Linked DNA regions of Homo sapiens: all the other regions are linked to region 1. The links come from fine-mapping of genetic effects on gene expression. A gene starts in region 1. Each other region holds a variant in brackets. All regions are shown on one strand. Distances are between the middles of the regions.

Region 1 (6,753 bases):
GCATTAAGAAAGCTGCGGTGGTCTGAGCAACATAGCCCAAAGGGCTGAGCCTCCTGGCCTGCCTGCCCGCCCACCCTGGGAGTCCCAGTGGTGAGGCTCAGAGAACTGCTAAGGGGAAAGAACAGCTGGAGTTTCTGTTGATGTGAAGAAGGCAGCTCTTGGCCTCCCACTCCCACACTTCTTTGCCTATAAATCTTCCTAGCAGCAATTTGAGCTACCTGAGGAGGAGGCAGGGCAGAAAGGGCGAGGGCCTGCCTCTGACCTGCCGTGTCCTTTGCAGGAAGGAGGTAGGCACCTTTCTGAGCTTATTCTATTCCCCACCCACACCCCCAGGCAGGGTTGGAAATGAAGGACTTTTTTAACCTTTGTTTTGTTTTTTAAAAATAAATCTGTAAAATCTGTCTCTTTGGTGCCTTTCTCCCCTAGGAATGCCTGTCTCTGGGCCCAAATGGCTACTTTTCACCCATACAGACAGGTGGGTCCCTGGGCTGGGGAAGGGACCTTAAGTGGATGGCATATCCTCCACACTTTTCTGGAGCTGGGTCATTTGAGGGTGCCCTCAGCTGCAGTTCACACGGTAGATACCAGCTTTCTTCACACGGTGTCCCTTGGAGTGAGAGGGTCCAGAAGCCCTTTCTGCTCTGCGCCCCCCTACCCGCCATTCCCACTTGGGAGATGATGACTGTTGGGCTAGCAGCCTCTGGACACCTGGGGCAGAACCCAGACTCTCCCATCTTCCAGCACACACCTCTCGATAGAGCTGCACAGCATCCAGAATAGCCTTGGGATGGCTTTGGTTCACTGAGCACTTTTGCATGCTCAAATAGAAAATGATTAGGGCAGAGATGAGGCATCTAAGCCTTGAATAAAGAAGGAGAAAGGGCATTCCAGACCGAGGCATAAGTGCAAAGGCACAAGCATGAACGTGGAAGTGCAAATGAGAGGCAGGTGAGCTGGCTGGATTAGACGTGTGTGCTGCTAACCGTGACCTGTGTTGACCACATGCCTCTGAACCAGGCACTGTGCTAGAAATGAGACTGGGGTGAAGCACAGAATAACCATGTGCCCTCTTGCGTGGAGTGAAATCTACCCCACATCTATGGGGGGAGGGGAAAAAGAGGCAGCTTGGCCTTACTGCTCCTCCCCCTTCATCAGGTTTTTCCCTAAGGGACCATTTCTACCTGTTAAAAATTTAGGTTATGGCTGCTCACATCTGTAAACCCAGCACTTTGGGGAGGCCGATGTGGGAGGATTGCTTGAGGCCAGGAGTTTGAGACCAACCTGGGCAACATAGAGAGACCCCATATCTACAAAAAAATACCAAAAAATGGCAAGGTGGTGCATACCTGTAATCCCAGCTATTCTGGAGGCTGAGGTCGATCACTTGAGCCCAAGAGTTCAAGGCTGCAGTGAGCTATGATTGCACCACTGCACCCCCAACCCAGGTGACAGACAAAAACCCTATTTTTTTTTAAAAAAAAAGCAGGGGTGGGGGTGGTTTGAGGGTCAGGCCACAACCTACTGAATCACAGTCTCTAAAGGACAATTACTTACTTGAAAGTAACTTTCAAGAACCAACACTCACATCTTAATAACTCCTCTTTGGAAAGCCTATTAAAATGGAACTGTCTTGGAGGAGAAACACACTGATTAGTTGATCCCCAGGGGGTAGAACTAGGGACTGGAAAGCCTGTCCCAGGAGGCAGGGAATGGCTGGCAGGACCCTGAGCTGACGGGAGGAGGAGGATGCTGAGATTGGGGAGTGAGCCCTGGGGAGCCCCCAGGCAAGAACGAACGCCCCATGTGCTGCCGCCTCTCCTGCTGCTGGAGTGCAGGCCACGTGCGCAGGTGCACCACTGGCCTATAGGACTCTGGGCAGTTCTTTTCACTTTCTGGACCTTAATTTTCCCTTTATGGAAGAAAATGAAAACCAGGCCCCACCTGAGTTTGTTGTGTGTAGCAAAGAGGGAGGGAACCAAACCTACTCCTAAAAGAAGATGTGGTGAATTTGATTCACACCAATAAGTATCCATCTTCTTTAGATGAAAAGCTCCAACCTGCTGCAAGTTTGCAGGGTGCACCTGCAATAGGCATTTGCTATTCCTGTTGTTTACACTTCACACTGAATTTCACAGACCTATTTCCATCATGATCCACAATTTAAAGAAATATTTCCCAAACTTGTATACACATTTCAATATCTATCAACTGAAACAAACATTTCATGAAACAAAACCTACCCTTACGTACAATATAGAATATTTTCCATTGTATTCCTGTTCGTATTTTAAAAATCTTGGTCACGACCCACTAAACTCATTACACGGCCTTCAGATAGGTCACAACTGGAACTTTAAAAAGCACTGCCCAGAGTAAATCACAACGGTTCAACATCCACGAATTTACATGGTTCTCTCTCCTGGGTGACTGGTGTATGTACTGGTGTACATTCTACTGAGAAGGTAAAGGGCTCCACTAGGTGAACTGTCCAAGGTCACAGGTGCCGAGTGCCCTTCAGATCTGGCTGAGGCTCTGTGCAGAACGGCTTTTCCTGCGTGGCAAACACCATACCTTGATTGCCAGCTGTTCCCAAGAACCAAAGACACTTCCCCTGGGGAGGGAAGAGGAGTCTGTACAAAATGACAGAGCCTCCAGCCAACCAGAACTGGCCTACTCAGACCCACCCTCTTCCAGGTGATTGGCCCCAAAAGGGTTGCCAGCCCCACTCCACCTTGGGGCCAGCTTCCCCCAAAAGGTTGCATCCCCGGCAGGTCCCTCGCAGGCAGTCCATCCTGACTGCTCCTGTGGGTGCAGCTCCTCAGGTAAAGGGGGAGGAGCTGCTTGTTCCAGATCTCCAGGAGCAGGCCATTTCTTCCCCAGCTCTAAGCTGGGAAAGTTTGCTCCAGGCCATCCTACCTGCTTCCCCATATGGCTCTCAAGGAGGGACTCAGGTGAGGGGGGACAATGGTATGGAGAGGAAGAAAGCTTGGGGACAGCTGAGCTAAGAGGGATCCAGTCTGATGGCTAAAACAGTACCAAGGGGAGGCACCAGAGTGAGCCCAGGAGTACCAGCTGAGCCTCCAGTCCTGGGGAAAGGTGGCTCCGAGAGGGGACATTGCCCCAGGAGAAGAAAGACAATCCGTGTGCATGGACACCGGGGTGGGGGAGGTTGTATTCCACAAGATTTTGTAGCCAATGAAAAGCTGGACTCCCCTTGCTTCCCTTAACTCTAAACCCCCTTGGCGAGCCGGAAAGCAGAGACCCGGGGGTACATTCCCTCCCCGACTGTAACTGAGAGCTCCCTCTATCCCCACTGGGACTGATGGTCCAGGACTAGGAACCTGTGCCCCCTTAAGACCTAATGGCTGATCTTTAACCCTTTCTTGAAGCCAACGAGAGTGGGGAGCAGGGCACAGGGTGGAGCTTGAGGGACCACCTTCTGCAGGTAGAACCTGAACAAGAAATGTGGAGGAGTGGACTGATCAGGGGCCTCCACAGACCACGGGCTCCCAGGCTGGGGCATAGGAGGGGCAGGAGGAGCTGGTGGGTCCCACCCAGTCCTGGGTCTCAGCACCCTCCCAGGCCTGACCACAGGAGTTCACAAGACCAACTCTGCCTGTGTGCCCTGGCTGAGGCCCAGAGCCCAGAATAAGCATCGGTTTGCCCTACCCTGGTTGGGAGGAGGCTGGTGAAGAGGGTGGGACAGCCACAGAGGGGGAGAAAGCCCCTCCAGCCTTTTCCTGCTCCTGTAGTACCTTACGCAGTACCTCGCACACCTCCCACAGTGCACCTCCCGAGGCAGCCTTGCCAGCTCCCAGTACGGGGTTTGACCAGGCTTCTAGGAACCAGAGAAGCCCAGCTGCAGCCAGCCCTCCAGGAGCTCAGACAGGAGCTGAATAGAGTGCGAAGGGAAGAAGCCAAGCCCACGGGGAGAAATAACAGGGCCGAGAACCTTGTGAGATGAGCCTCAGGGCTGAGCTAGGCCCAGGTCAAATGGAACCCAAATGCCATGCTGGAAGCTCTGGCTGGGGGATCGGGCAGTCCTACTCAAAGCCCAACCCCACCCATTACCCGCCGTGCAAATGCCTTGGTGTAAAGTGTAAACAGGAATGGCAAATGCCTACTGAAGGTGCACCCTGAAAACCTGCAGTAGGTTGGGGCTTTTCACCTAAAGAACACGGATACTTATTGGAGGAGAAACAAGCTGATTAGTTGATCCCCAGGGGGTAGAACTAGGGACTGGAAAGCCTGGTGCCCCAGGAGGCAGGGAATGACTGGCAGGACCCTGAGCTGACAGGGGAGGAGAGGATGCTGAGATTGGGGAGTGAGCCGTGGGGAGCCCCCAGGCAAGAACGAACGCCCCATGTGCTGCCTCCTCTCCTGCTGCTGGAGTGCAGGCCACGTGCGCAGGTGCACCACTGGCCTATAGGACTCTGGGCAGTTCTTTTCACTTTCTGGACCTTAATTTTCCCTTTATGGAAGAAAATGAAAACCAGGCCCCACCTGAGTTTGTTATATGTGTAGCAAAGAGGGAGGGAACCAAACCTACTCCTAAAAGAAGATGTGGTGCATCTGATTCACACCAATGAGGCCGCCCAGCCTTGCAGAGGTGAGCTGTCACTGAGATCTGCTCCAAGCCTCCATGCATCCTCTCTCACACAGTGACCCTGGCCCAGCCCCCTTGCTGAGCGCTGCCCTGAGGTATTGTGTGTCCCCTGGACAGCAGTATTCACCTGAGTGTCCCAACTCAGTGCTTCTCAAGCTGCAGTTTGCATTTCCTTGATCTTTCCTTCTATGTTCTCAGCGATTGATCCCAGTGACCCAAATGGACCCCTGCTTTCTCCCCTGAGCAACTGCAACCCTAAGCAAGTGATTTAACCTTTCTAAGCCTCAGTTTCCTCATTTATAAAGTAGACATAAGCACAGCATCTCCTTCAAGGGGCTGTGGTGTGCCTTTAACAGGACAGGCACATAATACACTTGGCCAGGTATCCGTCTCAGTGTCTGGGATTATGCATAAGGAGTGCAGACTTAATCTTGAAGAAAATGGAGTTTTAAGCAAAGGAGTACCAGTCAACTTGGAAGAGAGAATGAACACAAATAACTCATTCGTTGTTTCATTCATTTGCTGAACAAATAATTATCAATAGCATGAATTATGAGGCAGAGGCATAATGAGTGAGGCAGACAGTCCCTAGCATCGCTTGGCAGGTACTGGAGGAGAGGTCTGGGAAAGGGACAGAGGCACATCCTGGGGGAGGGACCTAACGGAGGAGATGTCAAGGCCAGCTTCAGACAGGAGGAAGCTGGGTGCTGAGGAATGATGCGGAGCTTGTTGGCTGATGGAAGGAAGAGTGCAATCAGAACAGAATACAGAGGTGGGGAAGCCTAGGAGACTTCATAGTGAAGGGTAAAAGATGGAGACTCGGAGGCAGGGTCAGGAGGCTGTTATAGGAATCCAAGTGAGAAACAAGGAGGCACAGATAGGACAGTGAGGGAGGCCAGGAGGGGAGTTTTGGGCACTAGGAAGGAGGCAAAAGCAACAACTTGGCTGTCGGGAGAGAAAGCAGGGGTCCCACTTGGGTCACTGGGATCAATCGCTGAGAACACAGGAAGGGGAGAGTGAATGGCAGGATGGGGGAGGAGTGAGTAGGGGGACGGAGGAGAGTGAGTGGGAGAACCCCCAGGGTTTGCTGATGGGCTGCATGTGGGGCATTAAATTATTTGTAACAATATTTTTATTTAAACCAGCACATCCGAATTTATACCTGTTTCACTGTTTTAATGTGGCTACTAGACATGTTTAAATTACATGTGACTCACACTATACTTCCACTGGATGATGCTATTCAAGATCTCTTCCTACACTCATGAAAGAACGCGGCTATACGTGACTGCAAAGGCTCGAGTGCACAGGCACAGATGCTTCCCCCTGCCAGAAGCAAGGTCTGCCTCTCCGTATTAGTTATTCCTTCCTTTTCACCTTAACACATTAGGGTCTGTTTTCCAGAGAGTACATATAAATCTACCTCACCCTTTTCAATAGCCATGTTGATTTCTATTATACAAGTTGAGCACCCCTCATCCAAAAATCTGAAATCCAAAACGCTCTAGAATCCGAAATTTTTTGAGCACTGACAGGACATTCAAAGGAAATGCTCCCACTGGAGCATTTTGAATTTCAGATTTCCAGATTAGGGATACTTAGCCAGTAAATACAATGCAAATATTCAAAACTCCAAAAAAGTCCAAAATCCAAAACACTTTTGGTCCAAACTTTTGGATAAAGGATACCCAACCTGTATAGAGATGCCTAATTCATTGATCCAGTTCCCTACTGATGAACCCTGGGGTTGTTGCATTAGTTTGCTTTTTCAGAGAAGGCTATGGGAACATCCTGGGACTAGTCACTGCAGAGTCTCCATTCCTAGCTGCAGGCAAGCTGGCCAGGGGCTGTGAGCACTGACAGTGTTACAGTGGAGGAGCTGGACTTGGGAGGCTTCTCAGGCATGGTTAAGAGATGTGGACGGTGTCCTGCACTCAGCAGGAAACCACAAAATAACTTCAATTTTTTTGTGTGTAAATTGCTAACTTTGAATTTTTCCTTCATTAAAAAAGCAACCTACTGTAAATACATTACAGAAAATTGAGGAGAAAATAAGAAACTAATTTTATTGCACAAACACATTCTTCCTTTTAGTCTTATTTTCTGATGCACGTTTTTATTCTTGCTTAAATTGTAATCAGAGTGCA
Region 2 (6,753 bases), 160 kb after region 1:
CCTGGGCATAAGGCAGGGAACAAGCCAGACAAGATTCCTACTACTCTCATGAAACTCACATTCTAGTGAGGAGATAAGCAATAAACACACAGTCAAATATATTCAGACAGCAGAAGGCGCAAGGAAGACCGTGAATCCAGATGTGTGACAGGGTATGAGGAGGTGCCACTGTGCGTGGGGCGGTCAGGCAAGACTCTTCAAGGAGGTGGCATCTGAGTTAAATTAATGGTACAAAGGAGTCACCGTGAGAAACTCTGAGAGTGGAGGCCACCAGCCAGAGGGAATAGCCAGGGCATAGTCTGAAGATTGGAACGAGCTCAAGATGGTGGAGGCACAGGAAGAAGGCCACTGGCTGGATGGGAGTGATGGGGGAGGGTGTTGGAGACAGAGGTGGGATCAGAGGGTGCCCCAAACTCAGCAATCAAGATGAATAGTATTTAATGCAATATTTCTTAAATCAAAATTAATGCAAAAAACCCACGATGAACAAAATTCAACATTTCAAACAAGGCCAGGATCACTAACAATGCTCTGCTGAGCCACACTGGAACCTGAGACAAAGGAAAAATCAGTGAGGCTGATTGTGTTTTTATTTAAAATTTTGATATCTTGTGTGTTGTGGATTTGTTGTTATTCATCGCAGGAGTCATCATGGTAGAAAACGTGTCACCTGGCATCAAGATCATGGTCTCCACAACCAGGCTGTCCGGGTTCCAATTCCTTCTTTACCATTATATGTTTATCTGTATGCTATGGGGCCAGTTTCTTGACCTCTCTGTATCTTTTTCTCCATCAGAAGATGGAGATAATAATTGTGCCTCCCTTAGGGTTACTGAGAGGCCCAAATGATTTAATATAAGCAAAGAGCTAAGAACTGTGCCCAGCCCACTGTAGCCCTCGGAGAATGTTGGCAGCTAGTCTGTAGCATTGGACTGGTACAGCTTTGGTTCCTTAGAGCAGTGGTCCCCAACCTTTTTAGCACCAGGGACCAGCTTCATGGAAGACAATTTTTCCACAAACCGCAGGGGGTGGGGGTGGGGTGATGGTTTCAGGATGATTCAAGCACATTACATTTATTGTGCACTTTATTTCTATTATTATTTCATTGTAATATATAATGGAATAATTACACAACTCAACATGATGTAGGATCAGTGGGAGCCCTGAGCTTGTTTTTCCGCAGCTAGACAGTCCCATCTGGGGGTGATGGAAGACAGTGAGTGATCATCAGGCATTAGATTCTCATAAGGAGCAGGCAACCTAGATCCCTCCCATGTGCAGTTCACACTCCTGTGAGAATCTAATGCCACCACTGATCCAACAGGAGGTGGAGTCAGGTGGTAATGCCAGCGATGAGGAGCGGCTGCAAATACAGATGGTTTGCCCCTCCCCACCACTGTTCATCTCCTGCTGTGCGTCCAGGTTCCTAACAAGCTATGGACCAATACCCACCTGTGGCCTGGGGGTTGGAGACCCCTGCCTTAATTCTAAGCGGGGATCCAGGGCCAAGTGTGGGGAGCCAGAGAGTGTGTATGTGGAAGTCGATTGTCACAGAAGCCTCTAGGGTGGCCAAAGAGGAGGAGGTTGTTGCAAAGATGCAGGTGAAAGATACGGACGGGTTCTGGAGGTGTTTAGGAGACAGACTCTACAGGACTTGCTGGTGGTTGAACTGTGACGGGAGGCAAGTGTTGGAGGTTGGGGACAGAGACCAGGCTAACCCCCAGCGCCTGGCAGTGGTCAGGGCTGAATGCCTGGGCCAGGCATGGCCCCTGCCCCCATCCCGGCCCTGTGTGTGTTTCAGAGGGAGCTGAAGGACCAACTTCAGGCCCTTCAAGACAGCGAGCGGGAACACACCGAAGCGCTGCAGCTGCTCAAGCGACAACTGGCGGAGACCAAGGTGAGCCTGGCCGGGGCGCGGAGGTGGGGCCGGCAGAGATGAGGGCAGGGCTTCGAGGGGCGGGGCCAGCTGGGGAAGAGGGGCGGGGCCTCGGGTGTGCGGTGGAAACCTGGCTTCAAGGAGCCAAACCTGGAGTGAGAAGGGCAGGGTGGGGAAGAGGGTAGGGCATCCGTGAAGTTCAATGGGGCGGCACCCACCCCATCATGACTGGCGGCAAGGATGTGGGCTGGTCCCTCGGTTAAGGACGGGGCCATTTCTCCCTTCCCACTTTGGGTGGAAGTTGAGGCGGGTCCCGGGACCCTCCGGAAACCCCCTGCCTCCTGAAGGGCTGGGGAATGTGCTCAGTCTCTTTCTCCTCTCCCCTTATTAAAACCGCCCAACCCTGGTGTTGTGACACACACTTGTAGTCCCAGTCTCTTCAGAGGCCGAGGCAAGATGATGGCTTGAGCCCAGGAGTTTGAGACCAGCCTGGCCAATATAACGAGATGCCTTCTCTACAAAAAAAAAAAAAAAAATTGAATATAGCCAGGCGTAGTGGCACATGCCTGTAGTCCCAGCTACTCTGGAGACTGAGACAGATGGGAAGATTGCCTGAGCCCAGGAGTTTGAGGCTGCAGTAGGCCATGATCATGCCACTGCACTCCAGCCTGGGTGACAGAGTGATACCCTGTCTCTAAAATGAATGAATGAATGAATGAATGAATAAGCCCATTGCCTAGGAGTCAATCCTGAGCATGTCCCCTCGAAGCCCTCCAGAGGTGGCCCAGCCCTGGTATCATCTCCCCTTAAGCTCAGGCCATGGGATACAGACTCTGAAAGGTAGGGCCAAACTCTGCAGTCTCTGGCTACCGTGGTTTGGGAAACAAACAAACAAACAAACAAACA[G/AACAG]ACTTTTCCACTGACTTGAGAAGGACATGGGTTCTGATCCCACCACTAACTCACTGTGTGACTTTGGGTAAATTGCATGCTTTCCTGGGTCCCCAGCCTTCCCATCTGTCCAGTGGGGACTGCCAGGCTCAGTCCAGCACTCTGGGACTGGAAGGTGCCGGGTGGAGTCCCCACTATACAGAGTGACTCTGTGTCGTGAGGCCTGGGGTGATTTCAGGCTGACCCCGCTCTGTCAGCAGGAGCTGCGGCAGAGCCTTAGGAATGCGCTGGGCCTCTGGAGGTCATCCTGGGGCCTGAAGACACCATTGGAAACCCAGATCTATGCCCCAGCTTGGCCACCAACCCACTGTGGGGTCTCAGGAAGGTCATGACAAACAATTCTTCACAGAACATTCCAGAGTGCCTCTGGGCAGGACCCTCGGGGGCAACAGATGATAAACAGTCACAGGATGCTGGCCTCATTGCTTCTTGCAGCCTCAGTTTCCCCAACTGTCTGGTGATTCTGTACCTCTTGGATGATGAGAAGCAAATGGAAGCCTCTCTCTGTATGAGAGCGGAGTATTATGGGCTGTTCCTTCTCCCCAGCAGCACTCTCTTCTCTCCACATCCCACACCCTCTTTGTTTTTCTCCACTGACCTCTTCCTCCCCCGCTTTCCTGTCCATCTGTCTGCCTCTGGGGGGTCCTGTGGGGCCACATCCCCCTCGAGTTCCCCCAGCCCCACTTCCTGTCTGGACTGGGGTGTTTATACAAGAAATGCCTATGGATGCTTTGGAGGTCATATTTCACCTGGTGCCTGACTCGGCTTTCCTGCTGCGCCTGCCCCTCCAATGGCCTGGCCTGAGGGCCTGTCTGATCTCCCTCCTCAGGCCCTCTGTTTTCCTTGGTCGGCGCCCTGGCGGGGTGATGCATTCTTGGCAGGGTGTTTTTCTGAAAGGGCCCCAGCACCTCCAGGCCCTAGGGTGTTCCAAGGGATGTGGTGGGTTGGGGTGGGGGCTGTTTCCCCAGCCACAGAGCTGAAAGGAGGGGGTTGGGGAAAGGGTGACTCTGCCCTGGAAAGAACTAGAATAAATGGGGTGCACCAGTTGAGCAGAACTTTTCTCTGTGCTGAGAATTGTGTTCCTCTTCATTATCCTGCCAACCTCACAGAATGTCACCTCCACGAGAGCAGGATTCCCTAAAACCTAGCACAGTGTCTGGCACACAATAAGTAGTTATAAAAAAAGTGATTGAAAGGAAAAAAAAATCGGCCAGGCACAGTGGCTCACGCCTGTAATCCTAGCACTTTGGGAGGCTGAGGCGGGCGGATCACCTGAGGTCAGGAGTTCAAGACCAGCCTGGCCAATATGGTGAAACCCCGTCTCTACTAAAAATACAAAAACTAGCTGGGCATGGTGGTGGGTGCCTGTAATCCCAGCTACTCAAGAGGCTGAGGCAGGAGAATTGCTTGAACCCAGGAGGTGGAGGTTGTAGTGAGCCAATATCGAGCCACTGCACCCCAGCCTGGGCAACAAGAGTGAGACTCCATCTCAAAAAAATAAAAAACAACAAAAACAAAAACCAAAAAAACAGGAAAGAAAAAAAATCGTCCCAGGTAGGAACTGTTGTTATCTCAATCTTATCAGTGAGGCAACTGAGGCACAGAGAGGTTGAGGGACCAACCTGAAGTCCCACAGCTAGAAAATGGCAACTTGGGAGCTTACCATCCAGTCCTGTCAGAGCCCAGTGCATAGTGCAGCTGGGATGTCTCCTGGGGTGTCCTGCAAGAGCTATGGCTTTGTAGTCAGCAAGCCAGGTAGGTCAGTAGGACTCATCGGGAATGTACTTGGGGCTCCAGGGGTGGCTGTCACTCTGATGTTCCACTGCTGGCTGCCCTGTCCCTGCCTTCCCCCCTTTCCCTCCCATCCTCTCTCGTCCTTGAGACATTGAAACCCCAGCCTGGAAAGAAGCTGGAGCCTGCACCCAGCTCTACGGAGCAATCTCAGACAAGACTCTTCCCTCCTTCACCCCTCAAGCAACTCCTGATTGCCAGCCTTGTACCAGGCTCTGGGATGGGCACAGGGGTGCAGAGCCGAGGGAGATGTCATTCCTACCCAGCAGGGGCCCACTTACTAGCCAGGGAGACAGAAAATGTGGGACAATGTATTAAGACTGTTGACAAAAGGCTCTGGGAACATCCAAGTGCCTGAAAGAGAGGAAAGTTATCTCTGAAGAGGTCACTTTCAAGCTAGGTCTTGCAGGATGAGTAGGAGTTTGCCAGTTGAATACAGGGTTTGGGTAGGGTCATTCTAGGCAGGTGGAGTTGCAATGCAGTGGCGCTAGGGAGGTAAGCTAGGGTTAAATTGAGAAGGTCCTTGAATGCCAGACTAAAGAGTTCAGCATTTTACTATGTGTCAAGGAGCTAAAGAAGGTTCCTAAACTCAGGATCATCTGTGATTCAGTTGGCACTTTAGAAGGATCACTCTGACAGTGAGTTTGCTGGCAAAGACAAGAGTTGACTTGTAGACCAAGTGAGTTGGAAAGACCTGTGGGACCCCAGAGGGATGTGTTGGGGAGACTGTTGGAAAAATGGGTGTGGCACTCAGGAGACAGGCAAGGCCATCTATATGGACTTGGGAACCATCCTTAAAGCAGTTCAAGTTGAAAATGGGGGCAGGTGTTCAGGGTGAGGATGGAAGGCGCTGACCTGGATGAGCCCCGAGGAACATGGGAGGCAGAGAGGCAGCAGTCACAGAGATGGGAGGCAAAGCAGAACTTTCAACTAGGAGAGGGTGGCGAGTGGGCTAAGTGCTGCAGAGTGGTCTAGGAGGAGCCAGAGGAGTAGCTGCGGAGTCTGGGCGCCTGTGGAGGGCAGCTCCAGGTGGTGCAGGGACGACGGACCCCATCTTCCCCATCAGCAACATGCCGCTGCAGAGGCCTCCACCCTCCCCGGGTGAGGGGGCTCAGGAAGGCCACGGCAGCCTGGCCGTGCATCCCCAGACTCTCGTCCGCCCCCCTTTGTCTGCCTGGCGTTCTGGGTGGGCATGCGCAGCGAGGCTGGCCCACCGCCAGCAGTTCTTCCTGCAGGCCAGCAGCCGCGCGTCGGGGAGGGAACAGGCCCTAATTGAGCCTTTGTAGAGCCTCCCACAGAGCCCTGGGCACTGAACACAGTGGGGTTTCTGACTCCATGAACTCCCAGCCAGAATCCCACAAAGTAAAATTGCAGAGGCAGGCCCCACATGCTGCTGCAGCCTGGCCGCACTTCTATAGCCCGTGTCGTCCTGACGTTAAGCCCTTCCTCATGCGGCTCCCTCTGCCTGTTCCCCTGACCCCCAACTGACATCCTGCCCATCCCTCAGGCCCCGGCTCAGAACCCGTCTCTCAATGAAGACTTCCGGGAAACGCTTATTAGAATTGCAGTCTTCAATAACCAGGCTCTTTCTCTGCGCCTTGGAGTGCGCACAACAACACCCCCTCATTTCATCTTCACCACAATCCTACAATGCAGTTTTTGTTACTCCTTTCACAGATAAGAAAACTAAGGTTCACAGCTCTTAGGCAACTGACGTTGCCATAGCTAGAGACCCAGAGCTAGAGTCCTTACGCAGACTGTCAGGCACCAAACCTGTGCCCTTCACTACTTCACCCTTCCTGAGCCTCACAGTGCCCTTGGGGGCAGAGAAAACCATGAAAGTTCATGCTTACCTCCCTGATCCTGTCTATAAACACCAGTCCTTGCTCCTTAGCCAGAGGGTCCTAGAGGTAACAGGAGACAGCGAGTAACCACCAAGGTTTTCTCAATACGTTGCAATTTACAAAGCTCTTTGATGTCTGTGATCTTGTCATCTTTCCTTGAGCCCCCTGAATGAGCCCCATGAATGATTTTTTTAAAATAAAGACTTCAGCCGGGCACGATGGCTCACGCCTGTAATCCCAGCACTTTGGGAGGCCAAGGTGGGCAGATCACCTAACGTCAGGTGTTTGAGACCAGCC
Region 3 (5,000 bases), 39 kb before region 1:
ATTTCCTCATCCGTAAAACAGAGGTGATTATATTTCCTATGGGCTGTAAATGACTGAGATGGCCTGTGCAAGTGACCGGCACAGAGAAAGCCCTCCCTCATTCCCACGCTCCATCACCACCCAGCTTATCACCAGTTTGTCACCAGGTTCTGATGAGACTTCCTCTTGTTTTGGCTTCCTGCTTTGCTTAAGGCCTGCTGACGGGATGAGGCTGAACTGATCGCCAGGATATCCTACTCACAACTGCTAGAATTATCTCCCTCAGAGACTGTTATTTCCTTCTTGTTTAAAAACCTTCACTGTGGCCAGGCACGATGGCTCACGCCTGTAATCTCAGCCCTTTGGGAGGCCCCGAGACAGGCGGATCACTTGAGGTCAGGAGTTTGACACCAGCCTGGCCAACATGGTGAAACCCCATCTCTACTAAAACTACAAAAATTAGCCAGGTGTGGTGGCTCATGCCTGTAATCCTAGCTACTTGGGAGGCTGAGGCAGGAGAATTGCTTGAACCGAGGAGGCGGAGGTTGCAGTGAGCAGAGATCATGCCATTGCACTACAGCCTGGGCGTCAAGAGCGAAACTCCATCTCAAAAAAACAAAAAACAAAAACCTTCACTGTGTCTTTATGTCCTCCTTGATCAGCTGGAATGCCTAGTCTATAGTAAGGGCTCACTCAATATCATGTTAATGACTTCTGACTATCTGACTTCATGGGGGACCTTAAAGACCCTCCCCCCACTGCCCACTGCACCTGACTGCTCGTGGTGTCCTCATGCAGACGCTCTGTTATGGCCAAGCAAATATGCTGTTGTCTCTTCTCTCCCACTCCTACCCCTTTGTGACTTTCTTGGCCTGTCATATGCCCTTTTCCTCCCTGCCTCCTGGCGTTAACAATCCCTTTTTGTTGTCCATACCTCCAAGATTGCCTCCAGTATTCTCAACTGCCTGCAACTAATACTCCTAGGCTTGCGGTACTCGCTCGTCCTTACTGACTTCTGTTATTCACTTGGCCATCAGCATTTTTGACCTTTTTTGTCCTTACTGACTTGTGTTATTCACTTGGCCATCAGCGTCTTGTAATATGCAAGGCACCATGCCTCACCTGTCAAATGAAGTCAAGTTCCCCTTCACTTACTGCATTGTACAAGTCACTTGGAAACTACTCTCAGCTCTTGCTTGTAAAATAAAAACACTTCTCAATTGCCTCATGGGCTTCTTGTTAGAAATAAATTAGATTTAAATGATAAAAATTCTTTGAGAAGTTCAAAGCAACACACAGATAACAGGTAGTATTTTAAGAATAGCTACCATTTACTGAGCATCTACTAGGTACCAAGTGTTGAGCAAAGGCAGTGAATCTCTTTGTGGTTTAAACAAAATAGTCCATTTGATACTAACAACTATGTGGTATGTGTCACCATTTACAGAACAGCAAGTCAAGATACAGAGAGGTTGAGCAATTTATCTAAGATTGCACAGCCTATCAGTGTCAGAGCCAAGATTTAAACCCAGATCTGACTGACTCTAAAACCCATGCGTTTATCCACTTATGCTATCCTGCCATCCTCTGCCAAGGGCAGGGTAGGGGCAGAGATGCAGATAACATTTTCTTTTATAATGCTCCAAGCTGCTTAGCAAAGTATCCTGTACACAGCAAGTATTTGGTAGTTTTTCCAGAGGGCTGCAGAACAGGCCTAAGAACCTTCAAGCATAATCAGACTATCATAGAGTGCCCCTGCAGCTGGCAACCCAACACCGTTTTGCAAGTTTCTTACAGGTAAACTTCCCTTAGCTCTACTTCCCCTCTCAAACTCCTCCTGACCCCATGCCAAGGGAATGCATCATGGAAAATTTGTGTGGCTATTGCTTTAGGGTTTTCTAAAAGGAGCTTCCTTGTCTATTCTTGTGTATGCAGAGCACTGACCTCTAGAGCTAACTCTAACCTTAGTTACCTCATGAAGCCTAATCACATGAGACATCTTTAGGGATAAGCAGCCCCTAGAAGGTGCTAGCGTAACTTAGACCCAGCCAAAAACTGCCTCCTTTCTGACTCCTCTCTCTTAGACACCTTGGCTTTCAACTATACATGATGCCCTGGAGATCCCTGAATTCACCATAGTATTTTATGCCTCTGAGTCTTCCCGAATGCTGTTCCTTTTGTCATCTTCCTAACTCTGAATCATGTTAAACACTTACTTGCTCTGGGAAACCTTCTCTGCTCTCCTTCCAAAGCTGAATCCCCTTTTCCGTGTTCTCAATATTCTGTGCTTATCACCTATCATAATATTTACCAAATTATGGTGAGAGTATCTGTCTTCCATCTCTTTTACTAAACTGTAATCTCTTCTAGGGACCATGTCTTAGCCAGTACCAACCATAGTACTTGGTGTGTGGTGGGTGCTTAATAAATTGTTTGTTGAGTGAGTGAATGGTTGAAAGTGTATCTTCCCTTAAGGGTAGTGGCTAGTAAAAAGATCTGCCATTCCTCTCCCACAGGCACATTCTCCTTGCTGGTAGGCCAGGTAACATCAAACTCTAGTCAACTATAGTGGACTTCTAGGAAAATGAGTGCATAAGTAGTCCTGTAACTATAACTGGTATGCTTGCAGCTCCCATATACTTTGCGGCAAGAGTCCCAGCATTTCTGGGACAGTGAGTCGTTTCCTGCATATTTGAAGCCTTGAGAACAAGTCTTGTAGGATAAACAAGTCCCACCATGTTGTCTGTCATTCATTCATTCA[TTCAG/G]CAATATTGATTGAGCATCTACTAAATTCAAGATATTTTGGAGGAAACAAATGTCTCACATAAATTCTGCCTACTAAAAGAGATAAGTCACTTACTGAAATAACTCTGAGATAGGTGTCATCCTTACCTCCATTTTAAAGATGATGACATAGAGGTACAGAGAGGTCAGGTAACTCACTCACCCCATGTCACACAGCTGGTAAGCAGCAGAGTTGGAATTCAAATCCAAGCATTTTGACTCAAGAGCTCACACTTGACTTCTGGGCACACTGCTTCTCTGAGGGCAGTGCAAAGCAAAGCGGCCTGATTGTCATCTCAGAGAAAGGGGAAAGTCCTGTCAGCTGTAAAGACCAGAGAATGGTGACTAGAATTTGATTTGTAGCACTCTAGACAGTATGAGAAAAGGCATATACTCTGTACAGGGTACAGTGAACAGTAAAGATTGCTTGGGTCAAAGAAATAATAAAAATTAAAAGGTTGGTTTATGTTGTAAAGAGATCCTGAATGTCTGCCAGGGGCTTTAGACAACCGTAGACAAAGGAGAGTCCCTGGCGGTTTTTAGTGAGAGATCAGATCTGTGCACTAGGAAGATTAGTTTGCTCTCTCTAAGCTGGATTACAGAGAGAAGAAACTGGAATCAGGAAGACCCTTCCTCTACTGCAGTACTCGAAACAAAAGGATTTTTTTTTGATCCAGGATAATGCTGGAGTTAAATCATGATCTTTGTTTTTATTAACCTCAAAAAGTTAAGGATGTATTAATATATACCCCAAATACCTTTGGGTCTCTGATCTATAAATTGATTCAAGCCTTATGAGCTTGATTTCCAGCCTTGGTGTATAGTAGCCTCGTTTGTCCTAAAACAATTGCTTTCAGTTTTCCATGAGCAGCACAGGGTGGGGAGGGAATGGGATAGGAGAGGAAGCACAGGAATAGAAGCCAGGCAAGCAGTCCCCTTTCCCAGTCTTTTGGGAAAACAAATGTGTGTTGTCCCTACCTATACTCTTTATGCTGTAGAGATTTAGAACCTTTTCCCTCTGTAATCCTTTTTCCTCCTTATTAACCCTGAATTGTAAACTACTTTTCTGCTATAGCCACTCCATCAAATTCTAGATGTGGAAGAGATTTATGTGATCACCTAGCCCAGACCTCCTCTTTCACAGATTAAACTCTGAAGCCCTGAGAAAGAAGAGTACCTTGTCTCAGGCCGCACAGCCAGCAAGTAGTGGGGCATGCCATTGATCCTCTTAGCCTCCCTGACCTGGAACCATCTCCAGCTCCCACCTCACATAGGCAGCCCCTAAGAATGATTCCACATCCCAGGAGCAGGAATCCATGATTTTGCATTACAGGAGAAAAAGTTTTGGTTGCATTTGCAGTGACATGCCCAACATTTGCAGATCATTTTGGCTGTGGGGGCCTAACAAAGTCCTGTGTGGCCTCTTCAGTGTCTCCCAGGTGCCTTATCAACAGTCTTCTCAAAAGTGCCTGATTGTTAAATTCCGACCTATTCAATGTGAGATAAGGAGACACAGCTTAGATTGGGGTCAGTTTATAATCACCAAATGTCTGCTGGCATTTCCACAAAGGTTCCGCCATCAACCCAAACCCAACACACTTCCCTCAACATCACACTGGTGTCCAAGTTTCCCAAACCTGTCATTCAGTATCATCCATACTAAACCCCTCTGGGCCATCCATAGTCCCTCTCTCTCTGACTACGACAGTCAGTCACCAAGGACCATTTTGCTTTTCCTTTGTAACACATCTTATTTCTGTCCTTTCCATTCCTATTGGAATTCTGCTTGGAATTTCACGTTGGGCTGGGATGAGACCATTCAAAACTTGCATGTGAACAGACAAAATTCAAGAAGGAAGGCACCTCCCCTAACTCAGTTTGAAACCTGCTTACTTTGCACCTGTTGCATCACAGGATCCATTTAAAACGTGAGCTCAGGACCCAGAATTCACCTTTATCCTTACTGGCATGAGGCTTTAGTTGTAAAAATCCATTTGCGGGCCTCCAGCTGTGGCCTGCCATGCACTTGGCTAGCTCTCCAGCCGTGGAAGTCTCTGTGGAGGGCAGTTTTTAAACAGGACAGATTCAGCTGAGCTGCTTCATCCTAGGCTGGCCTGGCACTAGCCAGAGAGTGATCTGTGCAAAGACAATCTCTGAGCTGAATTTCCTGAATCCCTACTCCAAACAAGGCATGAGCTAGACACTGAAGGGATACTAAAAAATATAAGAATTTTCGC

The links. PIP is the estimated chance that this variant, and not a neighbour inherited with it, causes the effect.
Region 2: its variant is the best candidate, but not a certain one, in a credible set for the expression of A3GALT2 in whole blood (INTERVAL, PIP 0.71).
Region 3: its variant is the best candidate, but not a certain one, in a credible set for the expression of A3GALT2 in whole blood (GTEx, PIP 0.66).

What each region holds. Positions count from the first base shown.
Region 1 is chr1:33,317,274-33,324,026 of GRCh38, reverse strand. A3GALT2 (alpha 1,3-galactosyltransferase 2) reads left to right here and starts at 2,929. Exons shown (of 5, transcript NM_001080438.1): 1 at 2,929-2,951. The coding sequence starts at 2,929. It overlaps PHC2 (polyhomeotic homolog 2), which reads left to right. Exons shown (of 15, transcript NM_001385109.1): 15 at 1-401.
Region 2 is chr1:33,160,615-33,167,367 of GRCh38, reverse strand. TRIM62 (tripartite motif containing 62) reads left to right here. Exons shown (of 5, transcript NM_018207.3): 2 at 1,802-1,897. It also overlaps a transcript of AZIN2 not described here and a transcript of ZNF362 not described here. Among named protein-coding and RNA genes, the nearest start is that of TRIM62, 18 kb to the left of the region's middle. RefSeq lists enhancers at 2,724-3,456, 3,457-4,189. The variant G/AACAG (reference allele first, on the strand shown) is at 2,783.
Region 3 is chr1:33,356,946-33,361,945 of GRCh38, reverse strand. The region is part of intron 7 of PHC2 (polyhomeotic homolog 2); the gene reads left to right. It overlaps PHC2-AS1 (PHC2 antisense RNA 1), which reads right to left. Exons shown (of 3, transcript NR_125978.1): 2 at 2,872-3,085. Among named protein-coding and RNA genes, the nearest start is that of PHC2-AS1, 9.1 kb to the right of the region's middle. The variant TTCAG/G (reference allele first, on the strand shown) is at 2,741.